Linked DNA regions of Homo sapiens. The protein of the gene in region 1 interacts with the protein of each later gene in a biochemical or structural test. Each region holds a gene or a part of one and is shown in the gene's direction. Other genes may lie near its edges.

What was found.
Region 2: the proteins of GOPC (region 1) and SLC15A2 interact in a test that uses a peptide from one of them, tested with the Homo sapiens proteins (one large-scale study listed by IntAct).

What each region holds. Positions count from the first base shown.
Region 1 is NC_000006.12:117,564,369-117,568,025, reverse strand, and holds part of GOPC (Golgi-associated PDZ and coiled-coil motif-containing protein), read left to right. Parts: intron 1-991; coding exon 992-1,172; intron 1,173-3,657.
Region 2 is NC_000003.12:121,939,244-121,942,044, forward strand, and holds part of SLC15A2 (solute carrier family 15 member 2), read left to right. Parts: intron 1-105; coding exon 106-252; intron 253-1,140; coding exon 1,141-1,245; intron 1,246-1,587; coding exon 1,588-1,764; 3' UTR 1,765-2,801. UniProt on the Homo sapiens protein: Proton-coupled amino-acid transporter that transports oligopeptides of 2 to 4 amino acids with a preference for dipeptides. Transports neutral and anionic dipeptides with a proton to peptide stoichiometry of 2:1 or 3:1.

The sequences.
Region 1 (3,657 bases):
TAGAGATGGGTTTTGCCATGTTGCCCAGGCTGGTCTAGAATTCCTGAGCTCAAGCGATCCACCTGCCTCAGCCTCCCAAAGTGCTGGGATTACAGGTGTAAGCCACTGTGCCTGGCATGATCTGTAACTTTTTACTTGAATGTTTCATTGTTAAAGAATGACAGTACAAATATTACACAGTTAGTCTAGCATAATATAAAGATTAAGGACTTCAGAGTCAAACTTTTGTTTTTCTTTATTCTTGTTCATTATGTAGGGAAAGTTATCTGCTTTCTGCAGGACTCACTCAGCTTTCTCGTTCATGTAAAAGAGACTATAATAGGATTATTCTGGGGATTGAAGGCTATAATTTATAGTAAATATATAAATATAGTAATTACTATTAGTACGAGACAGAATACCTTGATTAACACTATGTCTGTGTCTGGTACTCAGTGTAAGTTCTTACTCAAGACCTATTGAATAAGAAACAAAAAATCATTTTGTAGGAGTTTCTTGAATTAGTTAAGAAAAGATTTATATGATGTCCTTATGGCAGTGTACAAAAATCATTTTCTAGGGGTTTCTTGAATTAGTTAAGGAAAGGTTTGTATGATATCCTTATTTAATATCTGACTATTTAGATGTATTTGCTGAATTGCTGTGTGCAGTACAAAGTAGCAAATAACTTTAAAACTGAATACTTGTTCCAAAATTCTATAAATTTAATAATTAAGCATCCTCTTAAATTTTAGATCTATTAGCAAAAAGACTATGGTCAGTAGAAAGAGCTACTATAATGTTTAAAGGAACTGTAGAGAGGATTCACGAGGCTGATCAGACATGATGGCCTCACTACCTCTTTAGATTCTAGAATTTTATTATTTATTTTCTGGAAATCAGCTATCTCTTAGATCTCTCTACCCCTAAGCCTTCCCACAAAGAATTTGGAAATCCTTTTTAAATTACAATTACAATAACTTGACTTTCTCATTTTCATTTCCTGTTTTAGAGAGGAGAGATTGAATTTGAAGTAGTTTATGTGGCTCCTGAAGTGGATTCTGATGATGAAAACGTAGAGTATGAAGATGAGAGTGGACATCGTTACCGTTTGTACCTTGATGAGTTAGAAGGAGGTGGTAACCCTGGTGCTAGTTGCAAAGACACAAGTGGGGAAATCAAAGTATTACAAGGTAAAAATCACTCTAAAAATTATTATTAACATATTCATTATTATTAAATGTTTAAAATGTGAAGGCCTCAGAATTTCTTCAGTAAAACTGTTTTGTGAGGAAATCAAAGGAATGAAGAGCTTTCCCTTGTTTATTGTTTTATTGTATACTATGCTAACAGTTTATTTACCATATATGTTCTTCTATATTCATCTTGGACTGTTAAGACAAGTACATTACCAGTTACTCTACTGCAAGTGATCCTTGAAAAATAAATAAAATTTTTTCTAGACTCTGAAACAAAGACCAATATACTATTTTGAGTAGATCTATCTTGTAGACTACATTGTCTGTCTGTCTTGATGCAAATTCATCTCTCACAATGAATTTTAAGCTAATTATGAATAAGTATGAAGTATACTGTCACCTTATGATTGCTATTAGAATCAACTTATATTATCTTGGGGATGTTTGGTTTAGTTCCTTTGCTATCATTTAGACATATTTTAAGGAAAAACTCTAGCACTTCCTTTTACATAGAGCAGTGGTCCTCAAATTGTGATCTGTGGATCTCTGAGGGTCTCTGAGATATTTTAGCAGAGTTCATGAGGTCAAAGCTTTTCATAATAATACTAAGACATCATTTGTCTTTTTTTGCTATGTTGATATTTGCACTGATGGTATCTGGTTGATGCAAAAGCAATTGGGGTAAAACTGCTGGTGCCTTAGCACTAATCAAGGCAGTGTTGCTAATACTAGTAACTGTACTAGTAATCATTGTTTTCTTCCTTGCCATCCATTCATAGTAAAAGAAGAAGATACCAATTTTGCTTAAAAATATCTTTGATGAAATGGCAGTAACAGTTAATTTTTAAATATTGACCTTTGAGTACCTGTCTTTTTAATATTCTTTGTGATGAGATGGGAAGTATGCATAAAGCACTTACTCTGCACACTGAACAAAGATGCTGGTTTCAAGGGAAAGTACATAAGTGACTGAACTAGCCATTTTTCTTCATGGAAGACAATTTTTACTTGAATGAATGACTAACAAAGTATGGATTTTCGGACTATTTGGAAGCCATTTTCTTAAAAATGAACAAAGTCCATCACTTCAGGAAAGACAACTGATAATATTTATTGCCAGTGATAAAATGTGAGCTCTCAAGTGAAAGTTAGAACTTTGTAAAACATACGTTGATCACCATGAGCTTGACAGCTTCCTAACACTTAAGCTTTTCTGATGAGATTGATGATGATATTAATGAATGTGATTTTTTGATACAGTAAAGTGAAATGTGTCAACTTTTGGAATTGCTACATAACTTCATGGTCCAATATTTTTCAAATCACCAGTAAATGAAGTTATAAAATTTTGCATGGGAAAAGATCCATTCAAAATGCAAGATAGGCAAATGGATTTTAATATAACAGAGTGTGAAAAGTTCACTGATAAGGTTTCAAATTCCACATTGTCAAATTTTTGTATAATATCAGAGAACAATACTGACAGTTATCTGAAAAGGCTGTTAAAATACTCTTCCATTTAGCAACTACATATCTGTGTGAGGCTGAACTTTCTTCATATACTTGTAATAGATTGAATGGAAGCAGATATATGAAAATACAGCTATCATCTACAAAGCCATTGAAGAGATTTGTAAAATTGTAAAATAATGCTACTCTTCTAACTAGAATTTTTTTGTTTGGAACATAGAGTTATTTGTCATTAGACAAATGTTATTTATATTAACCTTCTGGATTTATTGTCATTTTTAACAAAGAAATGAATTTTTTTTTAGATTTTTCAATTTTACCTACTAATATGGGAAACATCAGTAGCTATAATCCACATAAACAGAAGCTTCTTGGAGTCCTCAATGCTTAGTATAAAGGCCTCCTGAGACCAAAATGTTGAACTCCTGGCATGGAGTTTTATGGTGAACTGATAAACTGTTGCACTTTTGATAAACTTGTGTGTTGTAAACTGTCTGCACAAAGATAGCAGTAGCAGTTACTGTTTTCACTGTGCATCTTGAGCAAAACTATTGTGGCAGTATGTCAAAACCTTAATTGTTGGGCTGCTCTCCATATGGTTTCATTGTATTTCACACTTGCTGTTTTCTGTCGGGATTAGAAAGCCTGTCTCTTCCTTTTTTTTGTAACTGAGGCTAGAAGTCTTCTCTGTCACATATGCAAATTGCAGACACTTAAAATGTGACTCAACTAAAAATTTGTGTGTATATATCTTTTAACTGACTCACTTAAAAAAATGTATCTATTGGTTATTGTTTCACACGTCTATACTTTATAGATATATATATCACCTAAATAGGTGATATAGTCAACACTTATTTATTTATAAGCCTATTATTTATTTTATAGATGATCAGAATTCGTTTTAAGTTTTAGCTAGACATCATCTTGCCAACAAATTACATTTTAAGCAATTAACTAGTATATGCCTCAGTTAACTGAAGTTAATGTAATATGAAAGCAACAATGA
Region 2 (2,801 bases), on another chromosome or scaffold:
GAATGAAAATACAAAAAGGATGGATATAAGATCGTAGAATGCTGTAGTTAGAAATATTTACTTGAGACTACTGACAAGTCCATTTCCATTTTCTCTTTCCCTAAGAACACCAATCAGGGTCTTCAGGCCTGGAAGATTGAAGACATTCCAGCCAACAAAATGTCCATTGCGTGGCAGCTACCACAATATGCCCTGGTTACAGCTGGGGAGGTCATGTTCTCTGTCACAGGTCTTGAGTTTTCTTATTCTCAGGTAAGTTTTTGCAAATAGAAGGTAGAAATTGAGGCATTGCTTGAAGGACAATGAATTTTAATTCTAGCACTGACTTAAATAGGTATGTTATCTCTTTTGGCCTTGGGTACCTTATTTATGACCCTGAACATATATGACCTGAACATCTTAACTCCCCAGGTCATGACAGTACAGCATGGGAGTCTATGATTTTGGGGTTCTAGGAAAGAGATTAAAGATTAAAATGAAGAGCTGCAGAGTCAGACTTCCCGTGTTCAAATTTTGGCTGCATGACCTATTGTGTAACCTTGAGCAAGTAAATTACTATCTCTGTAATGCTGTCGCCCAGGCTGGAGTGCAGTGGCGCGATCTCAGCTCACTGCATTCCAGCCTGAGCGACAGAGCGAGACTCCATCTGCCTCCCCGGCTCAAGCGATTCTCCTGCCTCAGCCTCTTGAGTAGCTGGGATTATAGGCGCACACCACCATTCCTGGCTAATTTTTGTATTTTTAGTAGAGACAGGGTTTCACCATGTTGGCCAGGCTGATCTCTAACTCCTGACCTTGGATGATCTGCCCACCTTGGCCTCCCAAAGTGCTAGGATTACAGGCTTGAGCTACTGCGCCCAGTCTGTAATACTATTTTTTAAATGTATAAGAATACGAATAGAACTTATCTCTTAGGATTGTAATGAAGATTATATGACATAATGAGTTTAAATATATTCAGTTAGGAGCTTCATCTTATTCTTACTGTTTACATTATTAACACCCTCTGAATCAATGTGATAGCTGAACTTAATAAGAGAAGTTCTAACTTGGAAGCTTTTGTGGGAGAAGTTTCCTGGATGCATGGGGCATGAGGGCAGTGAAGGGGGTTTGTTTACTTTCAAACTTGTGTCATCCCCAGGCTCCCTCTAGCATGAAATCTGTGCTCCAGGCAGCTTGGCTATTGACAATTGCAGTTGGGAATATCATCGTGCTTGTTGTGGCACAGTTCAGTGGCCTGGTACAGGTATGGATCTGAGGGAAGCAGGATTCATTTCTACTCAAGTTTTTCCTCCAGCTTTCTCTTCTCCCTTTCCCCCATCTCTCTGCTTCCCACATTCCCCATTCAGTGCTGTGACATGAAATGGGTTAGATATACAGACTTTACCAGGAAAATAGACATATGTAAGTGGCAATAATGACTACAATATACCTATGTGAGGAGAGGCCAGTGAACCCAGTCTTTGTCCAGCAAAAGTCTGGTTAAACTGGTGATCCCAGGTCAGTCTGCTCCCCACTCCTCATCCTGTAAAGATCTCTTTAGTTTCAGGTTTCTCCATATTCTTCTCATATTTATTTCCCCCTGCAGTGGGCCGAATTCATTTTGTTTTCCTGCCTCCTGCTGGTGATCTGCCTGATCTTCTCCATCATGGGCTACTACTATGTTCCTGTAAAGACAGAGGATATGCGGGGTCCAGCAGATAAGCACATTCCTCACATCCAGGGGAACATGATCAAACTAGAGACCAAGAAGACAAAACTCTGATGACTCCCTAGATTCTGTCCTGACCCCAATTCCTGGCCCTGTCTTGAAGCATTTTTTTTCTTCTACTGGATTAGACAAGAGAGATAGCAGCATATCAGAGCTGATCTCCTCCACCTTTCTCCAATGACAGAAGTTCCAGGACTGGTTTTCCAGTACATCTTTAAACAAGGCCCCAGAGACTCTATGTCTGCCCGTCCATCAGTGAACTCATTAAAACTTGTGCAGTGTTGCTGGAGCTGGCCTGGTGTCTCCAAATGACCATGAAAATACACACGTATAATGGAGATCATTCTCTGTGGGTATGCAAAGTTATGGGAATTCCTTTATAGGTAACTGCCATTTAGGACTGATGGCCCTAATTTTTGAGGTGCTGATTTAGAGGCAAAATTGCAGAATAACAAAGAAATGGTATTTCAAGTTTTTTTTTTTATAAGCAATGTAATTATGCTATTCACAGGGGCCTCAAGAATTGGTATGTATGATGTGATCTGGTCCAGCCAGGGCCTGGCTTGTCAGCTCTCTAGGTTTGATATGACTTTAGTAAATTTGTCAATATAGATGGTAGGAAGCAGAATGCCATTTTATTAAAACACAGGAGAAGTTATATCTCTCTGATTATGATAGTATTTTATTTACTTATCCAAACCCTCCTTTCTCAGTATGGATAGATCATGGAAACCAGATTAGAGATAGTAAGCATTAGTAAACATTGTTCTGGAGAACAGGAACAGGTGTAAGTTGTAGAAATCCTGAAGAGCCAGTCATTCTTTTACAGAGTACATTCTTCTTAGCCTCTATGGCGCTGGTCTATGCCCTTCAGTGAACAGTTGTATAAACAATAATTATAATTTGCAACCTTGTCTTGTCAACCTTGCTGATCCAGCTTTTTCTTATTATTACACCTTGTCTTGCTTATTGCAGCAAATATTCAATAACAACAATGTTTCTATAAGTCCAACTTCCTTTATTAATGTTTCCATTTAGCCTCAAAAATATCAAAGTAGTTCCTTTTTGATGTTGTTTTCCTGATTTACTTT